Linked DNA regions of Homo sapiens. The protein of the gene in region 1 purifies or fractionates together with the protein of each later gene. This does not show direct contact. Each region holds a gene or a part of one and is shown in the gene's direction. Other genes may lie near its edges.

Region 1 (6,733 bases):
CCTCTTAGAAATCTAAGGAAGGTGCCCTATTGAAGACCAACATCTTGAGGTCCCATGTAGTCATTTCTTGCCCATGTGGGAACACATTACTGTTTGGTTGAGTACCAGGTGAAGTGATTGGCCTGCAGTTAGGGCTGTGTTGTGCAAAAATCACTTGTTTTGGGGTGTTAGAACCACATTTAGGCGAGAAGATCACTTTTGGGGAGCTTGGGAACTGAGGCAGGCCGCAGGTGCAGCAGAGGCATGAGCTTGCCCGGGCCCGCCCTCTTGTCTATGCTCATGGAGTGAAGGAGGGGCCAGCGGAATGGCCCAAACAACTGATTTGTTTTTCTTTTTTTAAATCTTTTTCAGACAAATACCATTGTGTTTAAGCGAAATGTGTGTATAATGCCAAATCACTGTACCCCACAACCCTGCACACCTCTACACTGGACTGTAATTTCTTGTTCCTAGTTTGTCTTGCTAGACTGTAAGCTCCGTGAGAGCAGGGACCGTGTCTGCTTGTTGAGTGGGCTTTCCCCTGTGCCTGCCAGCATGCCTGGCATCTAGCAGGTCTTCTGTAAAGATGGGATGAGTTTGTAAACCCTCCAGCCTCAGGAGTGGCTCCATCCTCTGAGGCTCTGGGGCCCTCTGGCAGGCTAGTCATTTTTCTGCCATGTACGTACAATGCTTTATTTTCATGTTGTATTTTCCTTTCTAGCCAGTAAGCAAGCTCCTAATGAGCAAGTTTCTTTGTGGTGTTATCTCTGTATCCTTTCATCAGGCCAGCCCAGAGTAAGTAGTGCTTCGAAAGTGTTTGGTAAATGAATGAATTATGGTAACCCAGCCCAGTTCTGGCATCACTGTCTGCAGGTTAGTCTAATTCCAGATGAAAGCCCCAGATTCGAAAAAGGGAAGATTATTCAGAAGTGCATATGGTTGTATAAGAAAAAAAAATCTCATTAAATAGACCTGAGTAAACTTCAAATTTTGATGATCTGGCCATGTCGGAGCTGAAGCTTACCAGCTCTCTAAAGCATTTGCTAGGGAATCATGCAGATGGTCCAAAATATTTTTTAGAAAAGCATTCATCTGTCCCGGGATAGAAGTAGAGGAAGCTGGTAGGCAGGCGCTAGACCCTAAAGAAGGACTGCTGAGCCAGTTCTTAAGCCTGTGGTCCTGTCGGTGAGGAAAGTGAGAGCAGTCCAGAGCAGGTGAAAAGAGCAGAGCTCATTCCTCCAGTGGCTCTTTTGCCTAAAGCAGCATTCCTCAAACTTCTCACTCGAAGCATTAAGTTACGGTGAGATGCTAACACACGCTTTAGACTTAAGTCAAAATTTACTGTGAAGCCACAGCAAACCATGGCTTCACAGATGAATTAGTTGCTACACAAATAAGTTCGATACATAAGTACAGTAATTGCTTTTAAACCTTATAATAAGCAGTAAATTAGAAGTTAAACCATGTTTTTCTTTTACGAACTGAAAGAAGAGAATGCTTTTGATACTGAGAATCGCACACTGTGTCCAGGAAGATTGTTCTTGCATAACCAGACCCACAATAAATATCTACAACTTTTCTTACATGTTTATAAAATAAATCTTAGAAGAAAAATATTGTAGCTTTTTTTTTTTTTTTTTTTTCAATGAAGCTCTATGAACATTTCACAGAACTTTGTTCCTGGGAGTAGTTAGGGAAATGCTGCTTCAAAAAGCCAATTTTAAGTAGTTGTGAGGCATCCGAGTGGAATTTGGCTGCACTATCCATAAAACTTGAGAGTATAGGCGGTATTTCACCTACCAAGGTCAGTACCCTGCCTCAGGATTCTTACTGTTCATTTGAGCAATTCCGGGGCCCTCTCTGGATGACCAGGTTCGTAAATAGTTGAGACTTTGTGTTATCTCAAATTGTCACCATCACCTCTGGGCCAATATAGGTTAGTGAGGTCGAGAGGCCCACACCATTGACAGAAGAGAATTCTCAGGCCGGGCTTGGTGGCTCACGCCTGTAATCCCAGCACTTTGGGAGGCCGAGGCGGGTGGATCACCTGAGGTCAGGAGTTCAAGAGCAGCCTGGCCAACATGTTGGAACCCCGTCTCTACTAGAAATACAAAAATTAGCTGGGCGTGGTGGTGGGTACCTGTAGTCCCAGCTACTTGGGAGGCTGAGACAGGAGAATTACTTGAACCCGGGAGGCAGAGGTTGCAGTGAGGTGAGATCGCGCCACTGCGCTCCAGCCTGGGCGACAGAGCGAGACTCCGTCTCAAAAAAAAAAGAAAGGATTCTCACCTTCCTGTCCCTTCCTAGGAGTTTTGTGGTAGTGTTCGATCCTGTGATGTGGCCATCTTCTCCTCAGGGCCTGTGAGAGGCAGGCAGCATCTTTAGCTGAGGTAGAATGCCTGTTGGGGAAAGTCAAATAGGATGGTGGCTGGGGCCGGGGCTCTGGGGACTCCTTCTGCCCCACATACTCAATTGGAAAGACTGAGCAAGTCCCCTCACCTCCCTGGGCCTCAGCTTCCCTGTCTGTCAAATGGAGGGCTCAACTGGGGTGAGCTCCAGTTTCCTTCTAGTGCTAACGCGTGTTCAAGGATCCTTGCTCTCCTTTCCGGGGAGCATCAGGGGTGTGGGCTAGATAGCAGGAAAGAAGTAGGGGTTTGTAAACAAGAGATCCAAGCCCCTGGACCCTTGGTCCCAGCACCCAGTGCAGCCCTCGCCCTCCCAGCCCCTTCCTTAGAAAGGACAAGAAAATCCACTCCTTGTTCTCTCCCTGTCCCATCACCCCCGCAGTCCCCCACAGATCTGAGGCCGGAGGATGCCAACATGGTGAGCACCCTCTTGCTGTCTTATTCACGTAGGCTTTTCTTGGTGCCTGCACATGGCTCTTGTAAGGCCACCAATCTTGCTGGATTATGACCTCATCTAACCTTAATTACTTCCTAAAAGCCATATGTCCAAGAAGAGCCACATTGGGGGTTAGGGCTTCAACATATGAATTTGGAGGACATTTACAGTTCAGTCCACAGCACCTGGTCATGTGGAGATCCCAGTCTGCATTTGTGGGATGAAATCTCTGCTTTTTTAAAGTTTACACACCACCTAGCTGGGCACGTGGCTCACACCTGTAGTCTCAGCACTTTGGGAGGCCGAGGCGGGGATCACCTGATGTCAGGAGTTCGAGACCAGCCTGGCCAACATGGTGAAACCCCGTCTCTACTAAAAATACAAAAATTAGCCGGGTGTGGTGGCGGGCACCTGTAGTCCCAGCTACTCGGGAGGCTGAGGCAGGAGAATCGCTTGAACCCAGGAGGCAGAGGTTGCAGTAAGCTGAGATTGTGCCACTGCACTCCAGTCTGGATGAAAGAGCAAGACTCCATCTCAAAAACAAAAATAAAAAAAGTCTACACACCAAAAGAGCTGAAGGCAGGAGAGTTTGTGGTGGTTCAGAGTCCTGATTCTGGAGGAAACAGGCCTGTTTGGAGTCCCAGCTCTGCTCCTTACTAGCTATGTGGCCTCTCAGAGGCAGCATCCTTATCTGAGAAATCGGGTTGACCTTGTAGGTGGCTGAGAGGCTCAGATGAGGGCTCGCATGTGAGGCCTTGGCACTGAGCAGGGCACTCCTACCGAGTGTTCAAAGGTCGTGAGTACCACTGCTCTGCAGCCCTGGGCTCTGGTCTCAGCAATGCCGTCACTCTTTCTGGCTTCCTAAGAGTCAGAAGGCAAGTGGGAGAATAGAACCATTTCCTGTGTCTGAAGGCTGTGCCTCAGTGCTTTTGACTCACTCTGAAGACAGCAGGCAGCCCTTTCTGTTTTTTTTGGAGATGAAGTCTTGCTCTTGTCGCCCAGGCTGGAGTGCAATGGCGCAGTCTCGGCTCACTGCACCCTCCGCCTCCCAGGTTCAAGCAATTCTCCCACCATAGCCTCCCGAAGCTGGGGCTACAGGCACACGCTGCCACGCCTGGCTAATTTTTTGTGTTTTTAGTAAAGACAGGGTTTCACCATGTTGCCCAGGCTGGTCTCAAACTCCTGAACTCAGGCGATCCGCCTACCTCGGCTTCCCAAAGTGCTGGGATTACAGGTGTCAGCTACCACGCCCGACCCACAGGCAGCCCTTTCACCTCACGCCGAGCACGTCTCCTCCATCCATGAACATTTTGCAACTTTTTTTTAAAGAGACAGGTTCATACTATGTTGTCTAGATTGGACTCAAACTCCTGGGCTCAAGCTTTCCCAAGTAGCTTGAACCTCTTAAGTAACTGTGACTACAAGTGCACCTGGCCACTTTTTCTGAGACGGAGTCTCGCTCTGTCACCCAAGTGGAGTGCAGTGGCATGATCTCCGCCCACTGCGAGCTCCGCCTCCTGGGTTCACGCCATTCTCCTGCCTCACCCTCCTGAGTAGCTGGGACTACAGGCACCCGCCACCACGCCTGGCTAATTTTTTTTGTATTTTTAGTAGAGACCGGGTTTCACCGTGTTAGCCAGGATGGTCTCGATCTCCTGACTTTGTGATCCGCCCGCCTCGGCCTCCCAAAGTGCTGGGATTACAGGCGTGAGCCACCGCGCCTGGCCCACCTGCCCATTTTTTAAAAACTTTATTCTTCCTGGTATCAAGGGGAGAAAGAAAAAAATTTTTTAAAATATTTAAAACTTTATTTTGAAATAATTTCAAAATCACAGCAGTTTGAAGGGTACAACAAAGAACATTTTGCCACATTTTCTCTTTCATTCGTTCCCTCCTCTTCTCCCTCACCCCTGTTTCTTCCTATCCTCTCTGAACCATGAACCATTTGAGGATTATTTGTATACATCATGCTCGTTTATCCGTAAGATGTTTTAGTGAACATTTCCCAAGAACAGGGACAGCCTCTCACATGCCCATGGTACAGTTCTCAAATTCAGGAAATGTGTAATATTCTCTGATCAGCCCAGGAGTTGCTAATTTGTAGTTCCTGTTTCAAATTTGCCAACTGTCCCAATAATGATTTTGAAAGCCGTTGTTTTTCTGGTCCAGGATCCAATCCAGGATCAAGCGCTGCCTTTAGTTGTCCTCTCTGCAGCCTCCTTTCGTTTGGAGCAGGTCCTCAGCCTTTCTGTCTTTCATGACATTGATGTTTGTGAAGAGTACAGTCCAGTTTCTGTTGTAGAACGTCCTTGAAGTTGGTCCCGGAATATTTGTTTAAAGTGAGTTGGGAAACCACATTCACATGTCTTTTGGTTATGTGTGTATTTGTCAAACAGCCAGCCTTGTGCTGCGTGCTGTGATGGGGAGCATTACTCAACAGAGCCTGGCCCTGACCTTGGGGATGTAGTTTGGGTTTGTGGGGAAAGCAGCTACCGCCAGGTGGGCTTTACGGACCCCTGTGTGTCTCATGACTAGAGGCACTGACGCTTGGATAAATACATACTGGATGGATGCAGGATGAGTCCGCATTCTAGAAGTGTGCAGAGGTACAGAAGTGGCCCTGCTCCCTGTCCAGCACCCAGTCATCAGCTTTCCCTGGCTTCCCGAGGCACCCTGACGTTCACACTCCAAACACAAAGTCTTCTCTCAGGAATCTCGAGTGAGCTGCAGTCTGGGTTCTAGCCCTGCCCTAGCAGGGATCTGCTCAGTGACTGGGCTGCTCTCTTCCTGCTTTAGGCCAATGCGGGGGAGAGGAGACCACTGTGACTCTCCCCAGTGCCCTTGGAGCGCAGAATGAAGTGAGGGGAGGAGGAGGGTCACGAGCCCTGGAGCGCTGGGAAGACAGGCTGTAGGCCGCAGGCCCCGATCCTGCCTGGGACGAGGTTCAACAGAAGTAGGATGGTTTCATCATGACCTGGCAGGAAAACCACCAGACCTGGAATTTTGCTTTTACAACTGTTTAACTTCTGTTTCATACAGGATGGAAACCGGTGAATTGTAATCTCACATAACCGAGCAAGATCTAGTAGTCATAAGCACTTTGTCAGAGCAAAGCAGACAAGGCAAAGTGTTGGAAATGTCATCGGATCTTCACAGAACCTTAGCCAAGCAGCCTTTCAATGCGAGAAACAAAATAACATGGATTTTTATCTAGTAATGAAGTCAACACCATTGTCCACCCTGGGTTAACACATTCACATCTCAAAGCGAATGGGGCTGCAGACACTCGTGTTAGAGAGCCTTGGAATGTCCTGCCTTTTTACGTTTAATTAAAATTAAATAAAATATACAAAATTCAGTTCATCAGTTGTTCTAGTGGCATTTTAAGGGTTTAGTACCATATGTGGCTCATGAGTACCATCCTGGACAGCGTCGACCTAGAGCAGTTCCATCCCCGCGCAGAGTTCTGTTTGACGGCGCCACTCTGCACTTCCAGCAGCCTGGGGAGCAGGGGTGCAGGAGAGTTCCTTCTGTGTCACAGACTTGGTCACACAGTACAGATCTCAGATCAGCACTTAAACACGACTGCCAGCTGTCAACGGCGTGTTCTGTGGAATGCTGGGATGCATCACAGGTATGCTGGAAGATGTATAGAATTTTACTTCTGTTATTCTGGTAACTCAGAGTCCTGTTCAGTCAGTTTCCACGTCAGGTTGCTGTCCTGGTTTTAAAGAGAATGAACGCAGCCGAAGTTGAATCGAGGCAGTGATTTCACTCAGTGCGTTGGGTCTTTCCACTCACCTGGCCCTCCAGAACCCCAGGGCCTTGAGTGCATGGGCTGGTACAAGAGCCCAGTTTTTGGCTGGGGAGGCACTTCCTATGGGAGGGGGACGCCTGTCTCAGTGCTGAGGCA
Region 2 (7,000 bases), on another chromosome or scaffold:
GTGCTGGGATTACAGGCGTGAGCCACCACGCCCGGCCACTAAGGTTTTTTTAATCCCTTACTTTTTATCAAAATTTTATAACAAAGATTTGACTGGTTGAGAAGTTTTTTTGTTTTGGTGTTATATTTTTATGACTATAAATAGCCTTTCCTTTTATGTTCATCATTTTTACCAAGTTCAGTTGTCTTAGCCATATGTTGCAGATATAAATTTTGCCAAGAAGGTGATTCCTTCATCAGGTTTTGTCAATTAATAACCTTCATCGTGGGCAGTTTTAGTTCTGTTTTATTTATTTACTAATAGATTGAATCAATCTATTAGTAATAGTCCCTAAACACTTGCTAAAAGACTGAAAAGTTTTATTTTATTTTATTTTATTTTATTTTATTTATTTTTTTGAGACAGAGTCTCGCTCTGTCACCCAGGCTAGAGTGCAGTGGTGCAATCTTGGCTTATTGCCAGCTCCGTCTCCCGGGTTCACACCATTCTCCTGCCTCAGCCTCCCAAGTAGCTGGGACTATAGGCGCCCGCCACCATGCCCAGCTAATTTTTTTTTTTTTTTTGTATTTTTAGCAGAGACGGGGTTTCACCGTGTTAGCCAGGATGGTCTCGATCTCCTGACCTCATGATCCGCCCGTCTCGGCCTCTCAAAGTGCTGGGATTACAGGCGTGAGCCACTGTGCCTGGCCTGAAATGTTTTATTTGTTTGGTAGTCAGTTCTCCATTTGAGGTGGTGAAGGGGGCAAAGACCTTGGGGAACAGGGATACTCAGTGAGACACAGTAGGGAAGAGCTGGAAGCCTCCACTGTCCTAGCATGGAGTTCCTGAAGGCATGCTGGGGCCAAAACGCAGGACCGGCACGTGCTGCCCAAGTTGCTCCTGACGTTATCCATGGAAAGATGAAGGAGAACCCCCTTTGGTTCAGGGAAAGAATGGGCCTTGTCATCCTTTGTGATAAAATTACTACATTACCCTCCCACATTATCTCTTTTTTGCTTGTCACATTTAATGACAAACTGTGCCCGAACCATCCCAGGTGGGTGGCAGTGGCGTCACTATTTCTCTCCGCTTGTAGCTGTGGGTCTCCAGTGTATGTGATTGTATCTTTTTCTGGGAACATACAGGGGGCCTTTTCCTGTGATGAGCATAAGATTTGGTCAAAGTGAGATAGACATAGCACCAAAGCTATACACTTGTTCTCTCTGTAGCAGAAAGGAGTCTGTTCTGCTTTTATGAAAATTGAAATTATTTCTACTGATGGTGTCATGGGACTTTGCTCCCCTGAGGTAAGGCCTTAGGCACCATATAAATCTTGAAGGGATGAGTTTTTTAAAAATTAATGATTAAGAGTACTAGTCTGTTTGATCAGACAATATAAAGCCACCTCTAGCACTTACTAGCAGTGTGATCTTGAATAAGCCATATCTTTTAAAGCCTTGAGTTTTTCCTCTATAAAATGGAAATGATAATCCTCCCTCATAGGGTTGTAAGGATGCAATGACCTCAAGCATATAAACGGTCTGGCCCACAGAAAGCCTTCAATAAATGGTGGCATTGGTCATCAGTGAGACGTGGCATTACCATCCCCAAATGCCCAAGCCTATGTTGAAGAAAGATGTTGGCTGCATTCTCACTGCTTACTGTTTTTCCTTTTCTAGTGACTTGCTGTCTCCTGACTCAGTCCTGAGTTGCTTGTATCCTGGGGATCATGGAAAGAAAACTCCGAATCCAGCCAATCAGTATCAGTTTGATAAAGTTGGGTGAGTCAGCAGTTTCCTCCTCTCCGAGCTCTCTACTTCTGAGTTTCTCTGGTGGCTCAAGCTAAATGCTGGAGACCTGTTAGGGCCAGAGGTGACCCAGAGGATAGGAAAGACCACAGGGTAGAAGGAAATGTTTGTTCTTTCTTGCTTACAAGGCAAAGGGAGATCACAAAAAGGGTGGAAGGATCAAAACTCGGAAACATGCTGGGTGTGGTGGCTCACGCCTGTAATCCCAGCACTTTGGAAGGCCAAAGCAGGTGGATTCCTTGAGCTCAGGAGTTCGATACCAGCCTGGGCAACATGGCAAAACCCTGTCTCTACAAGAAATACAAAAATTAGCCAGGCATGGTGGTGGGCATTTGTAGTCCCAGCTACTGGGGAGGTTGAGGTGGGAGAATTGCATGAGCCCAGGAGGTTGAGGCTGCAGTGAGCCATGGTCATGTCGCTGTACTCCAGCCTGGGGGCAACAGAGCCAGACCCTGTCTCAAAACAAAAACAAAAAGAAAAACAAAAAAAACCCTCTGGAAGCATAATAATACGTGATACAATAAAAATGTTTGACATTTTAATTATCCGAGGATTAATTTTTAAAAGATTTTCTAAATTGGTAGACCAATAAAGACATTAGTACACTGCCTTTGTATTTGATATTTGCTTATAAGTTGAAGGCTGCAAGAAGAAAAGGAAAAAGAGGAAAGTGAATGTGAGAGAGATGAAATTCACAGTAGGGAACTGACAAAGTTGAAGGGCTTTGCCAGCAGCCTGGCTGTGAACATGGCCAAACCTGCAGGACTGGATGGTTTGTGGGGCATGGGAGGGTGGGAGGAGGCTGTATCCTGGGACCACAGCAGAAATGACTTACAGCACAATTTTATTTATCTTCTTTTCTGCAGCATCCTGACTTTGAGCGACTATGTACTTGAGCTAGGTCACCCCTATTTGTGGGTGCAGAAGCTGGGTGGCCTCCACTTCCCCAAAGAGCAGCCCCAGGTCTGTACACTGATCTCATCTAGTTGGCTGAGGAGCTTACCTCTTCTCTTCCTGTATAGACTCTAGAAAGGCCAGGCCAGGTGCGGTGGCTCATGCCTATAATCCTTGTACTTTGGGAGGCTGAGGCAGGTGGATCACCTGAGGTCAGGAGTTTGAGACCAGCCTGGCCAACATGATGAAACCCCATCTCTACTAAAAATACAAAAAATTAGCTGGGTGTGGTGGCACGTTCCTATAATCCCAGCTATTCAGGAGGCTGAGGCAGGAGAATCACTTGAACCAGGGAGGCAGAGGTTGCGGTGAGCTGAGATCATGCCACTGCACTCCAGCCTGGGCAACAAGAGCAAAACTCCGTCTCAAAAAAAAAAAAAAAGGCCTGTCATGGCCTTTGGAGTTTTGAACTGGCAGAATGTGTCCCCTCAGGGCTGTGACCTGTCTTCTATCCACTCAGGACACTAAAATGTCTTAGACTTACAAGAGTTTACGTACCTTTTGCATTTTCTCTGAGCCTAGTAGCCTTTTAGACCCAGGCAACTTGAGTCCTTGCTCTGGGACTCATGTCTGCAGGCTCTGCTGCCCTTGTTCTTGTGTGCAAGTACCAAATATGAGGCATGAGCAGAAATCCAGGGGGCCTGGCCCCTTAGCAGAAGCCTGCCTTTCCTCAGGAGTTGGACACAGCTTCTCAAGAACGCAGCATATTGTGTTGTTTCTGCCAGGACTCAGCGTCTGGCCTGTCATAGCAGATAAACCTTGCCATGTCTAAAGGGTACCCATCTTGGGGCATGGATAATCCAGGGTGCCGCAGACAGGCAGGTCCCAGGAGAGAGATGGTGCCCGGAGGAAGGGATGGGGGAGCACACGTGTATGTGTCTCATTGTCACTCACAGCAAACAGTGATTGCTGACCACTCGCTGAGCGCCAGCCACATGGAGACCACCATGAAACTTCTGAAGACCAGGGTGCAGTCCCGCCTGGCCCTCCACAAACAGTTTGCATCCCTAGGTAAGCTGATGATGGGGCAGTGGTTTAAGAGTCACTCAGACAACACACGGACAACAACAACTTAGCCTTTCACTCAAAACTTGAATCCTGATGACAAATACAAGACCTGGATTCCTGGCTTTACGGAGTGGGCATCTTGGCAGAGCCACTGGGGAGAGCTCCAGGCCTGTCCAGGCAGAGGACCGAGCTCCCCCTTAGAGCCATCAGTGCTGTCCTGCCTCACAGAGGAGGCCCAGAGCCATTGGGTGGCACAAGTTTGTGGACTGGTCGGGGCAGTTCATCCTAGGTCATGCATTGCAGATTTTGATGTGCATTCGACACATATTTAGTGAGATCCTGATTCATGCCAGGCACTGAGCATAGTGCTGGGGGAAGAACTGAGCACAGTGAACCCCTGCCCCTGGCTCTGTGGCTCACAGTCAGCTTTTTGAATATAGCTATCCAGGGAGCAACTCGCATATCCCTTCCCCAAGGCCTACTGACCTCGTGTTCCCCAGGGTGAGGCTGAGCCTATGTTTTCTTCTAAGCTCCCAAGTGATAATGATGAGCCACTGACTTAGGTGGTGGCATTTGGGGGCTTCTTTTAGTTTATTCACTCAGTAAGTGGTTGTCAAATGCTTACCATGTGGCAGGGGGATGGGGTCAAGATTTTTCTGACCTAAAAGAGTCTCTGGGACAGGCGCAGTGGCTCTTGCCTGTAATCACAGCACTTTGGGAGGCCAAGGCAGACAGATCACTTGAGGTCAGGAGTTCAAGACCAGCCTGCCAACATGGTGAAACTCCGTCTCTACTAAAAATACAAAAATTAGCTGGGCATGGTGGTGTGCACTTGTATTCCCAGCTACTCAGGAGGCTGAAGCAGGAGAATTGCTTGAACCTGAGAGGCGGAAGTTGCAGTGAGCTGAGATCGCATCACTGTATTCCAGCCTGGGCAACAAAGCGAGACTCCATCTCAAAATAAAAAGTAAAAAATAAAAAAGAGTCTCTGTCAGGAAAGGCATTGGGTTTCCAGGACACATCTGGAGACCACTCCCCACCAGTTCTTAGACTCCACATGGCTGCCGATCTCTCCAGAGCACTGATGTTTGTCCATCGGGCCGTGCTCCCCATCAGCACTGCTGAGTTTGTTTTGTCCCAAGGTAGGGAACTTGTCATTCTGGACAGTACTTACTGTGTTGGCATATTTGCTTATTTAAATGCCAGCAGGAATTTACCCTGGAGCAGTTATCTGGCTCTTCTCCCTGACACACAACACTTCAGTTGTTTCCTCCATCAAGGTCAGCTATGAAAACACAGGCCTCTATGCTATTTGATCTAATTAACAGTCACTGCTGCAGGGGCACCCTCCCTAGTTCTGACTGTAAGGGTTTTTCTTTGGCAGGCTATCATTTGCATTAAAGAGAAAGCACCATAAGTGCTGGCACTGGATCTGGCCACAAGCACATAGCACTGGGTGAAGGTCAGGTTGACATGCTTGCATTCCTGGCACGTGTTGACCTGGGTACTTCCTGAGTACCAGGTATACCAGGATAGCTGGCCGGGCCATCTGAGCCCTTCAGAGAGCCCCAGGAGGATGCTAGTTACCCATCTGTGGCACCTGATTTCTACCTGTGACGTCATCTGTCTTGTTCTCTTTTAGAACATGGCATTGTGCCAGTTACCAGTGATTGCCAGTACCTCTTCCCTGCCAAGGTTGTCTCTCGCCTGGTGAAATGGGTGACAGTTGCCCATGAGGATTACATGGTAGGTGAAGGAGTGACAAGTTACCCTTACTGTCCTGAGGATTGCAGGACCATGTCACCTTTCAGCTCCTGCCACCTCACTGGAAGAGCAGGGGGTTTAACCAGAGGAGCCAGCAGTTCACCTCTTGTCTGTGGTACCTCTTCTAGGAGCTGCACTTCACCAAAGACATTGTGGATGCGGGACTGGCTGGGGACACCAATCTCTACTACATGGCGCTCATCGAAAGGGGCACAGGTAATTGCTCTGCTGATTACAGGGGTTCTAGACAAAGGGCGCTGCCAAGAATCAAACACTCTCCGGGGCTGCCCAAAGCAGAAGATCCTGGAGTCCTGCAAGGACTTAACAGATAATAATGATCGTGAGAGCCTGTTCAGCAAGGACTCATTCTGCAACACAGTCACACACACGCTGTGTATCACTGAACCCTCACTGCAGTCCTAGGGGTGGTGCTTTCATTTCTATTTTACATGGGAGGAAATTCAGGCTTAGTTGCAAGCCCAGTCTGAGCGCTGAGCCTGAGCTCTTTGCTCCTTCCTTCACCGCTTTCTAGTACCGGACATCTCCTCCTTCTCCCTCTTCATAACAGGGCTGAGGTGTCACCCTCAGGTTGTAAAGGGCAGGGCCACAGGGCCTCGCTCCCTCTTCTGCAGTCCCTGCACTCACTTTAGAGGCATTGAAAGCTCTGATTCTTCATACCTCTTCTGGCATCTGACTCTGCCAGGGCTCCCTGCTGAAGTCCTGGGATGTTGTGTTTGGGCCGTTGTGCTGTTGTCCCACCCAAGCCGCAGCAAGCCTGGCACTGCCCGTGGGATCTGACACCCTCAAGACTTGGTGCTGAGCTGAGGAAGTTGTCTGTAGTTCTAAGACAGTTCCAGAACTGTAAGGAAAGGCTGAACTCTTTGGTATCAGAGTTTCTGTCCTCACTACCCCACTTTCTTCTCTTTCTATTCTTCATGTCTTTTAAAAAAAAAATTCTGAAGAAACTGAATATTTCAGATACAGTTGAGGCCTCCCTATCCCACTTTATTCCCTTTCTCCTAATAAGTGACCACTATTTGGATTTTATGCATTTGCTTTCCATCCTTTCCCCGCTACACCCTTTTTTTTTTTTTTTTCAGTAGAGATAAGGTCTTGCTTTGTCGCCCAGGCTGGAGTGCAGTGGCACGATCATAGCTCACTGCAATCTTGAACTCCTGGACTCAAGCAATCCTTCTTCCACCTTAGCTCCCTGAGTAGCTGCGACTACAGGTATGCTACCATGCTCAGCTAAGATTTTTTGTTTTTGTTTTTGTTTTTTTGTAGAGGCATGTTCTTACTATGTTGCCAAGCCTGGTCTCAAACTCCTGGCCTTTCTTCCAAAGTGCTGGGATTGTAGGCATCAGCCATCATGCCTGGCCTCTCCCCTTTCAAAATTTAATTTAACTTATTTTTTGAGACAGGGTCTTGCTCTGTTGCCTAGACTGGAGTACAGTGGCTCAGTCATGGCTCACTGCAGCCTCAACTGC
Region 3 (3,984 bases), on another chromosome or scaffold:
TTAATAAAACACTTAGGAGAATGTTGCAGGTAATGTGGTATAAATGTTAATAAGAAGAAAAATACTGCTTTGCTGAAAATAGAGTCCTGAAGGCTGAGTTTGGCACTGCTTCATCACTATGCAACTTTCTTCTTGATGACAGCTAGCTCTTTCTGAAGTTCAGTAAACTTGGGGGCAGTTTTCAAGTTTGTAATCCTAACACCTCAGCATTATTTTATTAAAATACTCTGTGGACACTGCCAAGAGACTGACATCCAGTATCTTCTTTCCACTTGCTCTTGTGGTTGCTGATTTGTCATTCCAGGCTATGGACAGACCCCCTAAGCCGAAAGTCTCCCAGAGGAGGATGCCAAAGCTCCGTGCGTCACTCTCAGAATGATATCTCCCATAATTAAGAGCTTCTGGTGCTGTCCATTTAATGGGAATCTGCTTTAAGTCAGAAGATGAGTACACACCACCATCCTCTTGACGAGACATTCCAAAGTCACTGATTTTCAGAACATTATTTTCACCTCCAGGCAGTTTCTTACAGCAAGGTCCCTGTGTATACATTTTTTACTCGAGATACACCATCCAGAATCAGCATCTAATGAAAATTTCACTGAGTTTTAGTTCATTCTTCTTTCTCTGAAAGGAGAGGAAATCGCCTCCAGGAACCAGTTCCTTAATGACGTAGATAGGCCGTCTTTGTGTGTGAACTCCTATACTTTTGACATTACTGGGATGATTATATTGCTTGAGGATTTTGGCTTCTAGTAAAAATTTTAATTTCAGTTCCTGGGGAAGACGTTCTTGACGTGTTTTAACAGCAACAGCAATTTTATCCTTTAATGTGACCTTAAATGTGTCACCAAAATTTCCCTTGCCTCTTGTAACGTGGCACCTTTATGATTGAGAACCCATTTCTTATTCTCCTAATGGCCATACTGTGATACCATGATGCTCTTAATTGGAACATTGACTTTTTTTTTTTTTGCAATTTAAACAATTGAGATAAAATTCATATAACATCAAATTTACCTTTCACTTTTTTTTTTTTCTTTTGGAGACCAAGTCTCGCTGTTGTCTCCCAGGCTGGAGTGCAGTGGCGCGATCTCGGCTCACTGTGACCTCCGCCTCCTGGGTTCAAGCAATTCTCCTTCCTCAGCCTCCTGAGTAGCTGGGACTACAGGCGTGCACCACCACGCCTGGCTAATTTTTGTATTTTTAGTAGAGATAGGGGTTTCACCGTGTTAGCCAGGATGGTCTCGATCTCCTGACCTGGTGATCCACCTGCCTCGGCCTCCCAAAGTGTTGGGATTATAAGCGTGAGCCATGACGCCTGGCCTCAAACTTGCCATTTTTAAAGTGTACAATTCAATGGTTTTTAGTATATCCACTATGTTGTGCAAGCATCACCGCTGTCTAATTCCAGAGCATTTCTGTCACCCCAAAAAGAAACTCCATGCCTATTAGCAGTCACTCCCAGTTCTTCCCTTCCTCGGCCCCTGGAAACCAGTAATGTACTTTCTGTCTCTGTGATTTTGCCTGTTTTGGACATTTCATTTAAATGGAATTATGCAATAATTTGTGGCCTTTTGTGTTTGGCTTTCACTTAGCATCATGTTCTCAAGGCTCATCCATGTTGTGGCATGTATCAGTACTGCATTCCTTTTTATGGCTAAATGATGTTTCATTGTATGAGTGTGTACCACATTTTATTTATCCATTCAGCAATTAATGGACAGGAACAATGGCTTTTAAGTATTAAATTGTAAGTTCAACATTAAATGTATCCACAGTTATTGATAATATCAAGATTATACATGGTGTGAACAGAATGCTGTGTCGAAATGGTATGTAAATTATTTGTCAGCATTTCATGTAAGTGATTATTTTCTAAGGACCCTTCTAGCCCTGGTTTTAAGAAATATGTGAATGTAGTATTTTCATCAATAAAGTTTAATGCATTAAGCATTAGCTTAAAATTTGAATGAAGGCAGATGTGAAGATATTTGCCACATGTTGTAATAATCATGTTTTGAAATTATTTCAATATGAAGTATTTGAAAAATGTCAATACATAAAGGAAAGGAAATGAGTATAATTAAGTCAATATATTTTTAAAGCAATTTTTATAATTTAGCAGACACTGCATCTTAATATAAGTTACTATTAAAATTGTGTCCTTGTGAAAAATGTGATGTCATTTTCCTTTTTTTGTTGATCATGTAAAATAGGTTACTTTTCTTTGCTACATTTTCTATTTAATAAGCTATTGCTTGCCGTTGTGGAATGTTTTACTTGTTGCTCCATTTTTTTCTCCCTACCCCCACCCCTCTCTCCCACACGCACACAATGTTCAATTTTTTTTTTAAGTCATCATTAGTGTGTTTATCTTTAATGGATTCTAAGAATGGACAAAAAGAAACACACAAATATTTCATCCTTTTCTGGGGACTCAAGTCTTTGTTACCGATGGAACTCATTAACTTCTTGTTCTTTCTTAAATCTTCCTCCCTCCTTACCTTTTCCTCTCCTTCCTTCTCTTCTTCTTCCTTTCTTCTCCCCTCCCTCCCTCCCTCCCTTCTTCCCTCCCTCCTCCTTTCATTCTCCTTCTCTCCTTCTCCCTTCCTTTTCTCCTACCTCCTTTGACTAAGCCTCCCTCCCCTACTCCCTCCTTTCCTTCCTTCCTTCCTTCTTCTCTATCAATATAATCACTTTGTTTCTTTCAGGTGAGATCGGACTGGAACTGTTCGGCTGCGACCAGAAATTTATTTTCCTGAGTAAATTGCCGAGAATTAAGAATGAAGAGGGCCATTTGCATCTCCTTAAATTATTCAGTTACCTGCTTTATTGCTCCATGTGGAAAACTTAAAATTGTTAAGTTGTGCATTACTGTATTTTAACTTGTTGCTTAGTTTCTACATGTTTATTTTCAGTAATGGCTGAAAGTGTTAACTGTTCCATACTTTTAGCACAATGTGCTGCATAAGGTTACCTGTGTACAGAGTTTTACTTTAGATTAACTAAATATTGCCTGGGTTCAGTTTTTATTTCCATTCTGAAATGCTTCCTTTTTATTGTTTGAAACTGAAAATAAACAATTGTTGAACCCTTTTGATTTTACCTCATTTTAAAACTGTTTTAATTTATTATTTGGCTTGTTCTTAATATTAGTCACTAAAAGCAGTGGGAGCATTGTCTTATGAAATGCTTAGGAATCATTTTATATAGTACATGTACAACATTAAACGTGTTTAAAAAAGAAAAAGGTACCAGCGATCACTTGTCCCTTGCCATTTTTTCTTGTAATTATGTTAGACAAATCTTGGCGGCGGGGGGATCAAAACATAATTGTTTTAATTCTACAGCTGTAGGAGCTTTGTATTGCTGAACTTTCATCTGGAAAAGTTTCACAGTGACATTTTTAAAAGAGAATTTTTTTATCTGCCGAATTCTACCAGTGTAACCTTTTTTCTAAATAAACAATAGTTTTCTCAAATGGTTGTATATTATTGTGTATATTGTTGCTTATTCAGAATAACTTAGCAAAGATAATTCATTAAGGTTCCTAGCCCTTCTCAGTTCTTATTCCATGGGCTACATTATTTTCCAGTGACATATCATCCAATAATAGGAAAATATCCTGTTTGATTACCTCTGTAGTTGGAGTAAACAGTGGACTTGGTAGCATGCCTGGATTTTTCCATTTAGTCTTCAGTTCCTTGGAAACGATACCTATGCAAATTAAAATTTTCAGAGAATGACAAAAAGGATATAACTTTTTAAAGAATTGAGAATTACTGAGCATATTTTAAATGAATTGGCAAAAGGGTATAAATCTTGATGTCTCTTTTCAGGTAATTGTAATTTGCAAAAATCGATGAGCAGAATATTTATGGGAGGGTGATATATTCAGTGACTGTTGAGTGCTTATAATGTGCCTGACATAAAAATAGATGTTTTGTTAGAGTGATTTTTGACTTTGAGAAAATAACTATG

What was found. The genes of interacting proteins can lie anywhere in the genome.
Region 2: the proteins of NCBP3 (region 1) and THOC5 purify together in Homo sapiens (co-immunoprecipitation; 3 studies listed by BioGRID and IntAct, with this or other methods). This does not show direct contact.
Region 3: the proteins of NCBP3 (region 1) and THOC2 purify together in Homo sapiens (co-immunoprecipitation; 3 studies listed by BioGRID and IntAct, with this or other methods). This does not show direct contact.

What each region holds. Positions count from the first base shown.
Region 1 is NC_000017.11:3,801,608-3,808,340, reverse strand, and holds the end of NCBP3 (nuclear cap-binding protein subunit 3), read left to right. Parts: 3' UTR 1-6,183; downstream 6,184-6,733. UniProt on the Homo sapiens protein: Associates with NCBP1/CBP80 to form an alternative cap-binding complex (CBC) which plays a key role in mRNA export. NCBP3 serves as adapter protein linking the capped RNAs (m7GpppG-capped RNA) to NCBP1/CBP80.
Region 2 is NC_000022.11:29,515,758-29,522,757, reverse strand, and holds part of THOC5 (THO complex subunit 5), read left to right. Parts: intron 1-1,658; coding exon 1,659-1,760; intron 1,761-2,653; coding exon 2,654-2,750; intron 2,751-3,637; coding exon 3,638-3,752; intron 3,753-5,391; coding exon 5,392-5,495; intron 5,496-5,641; coding exon 5,642-5,729; intron 5,730-7,000. UniProt on the Homo sapiens protein: Component of the THO subcomplex of the TREX complex which is thought to couple mRNA transcription, processing and nuclear export, and which specifically associates with spliced mRNA and not with unspliced pre-mRNA.
Region 3 is NC_000023.11:123,600,069-123,604,052, reverse strand, and holds the end of THOC2 (THO complex subunit 2), read left to right. Parts: intron 1-304; exon of another isoform or gene 305-2,714; 3' UTR 2,715-3,484; downstream 3,485-3,984. UniProt on the Homo sapiens protein: Component of the THO subcomplex of the TREX complex which is thought to couple mRNA transcription, processing and nuclear export, and which specifically associates with spliced mRNA and not with unspliced pre-mRNA.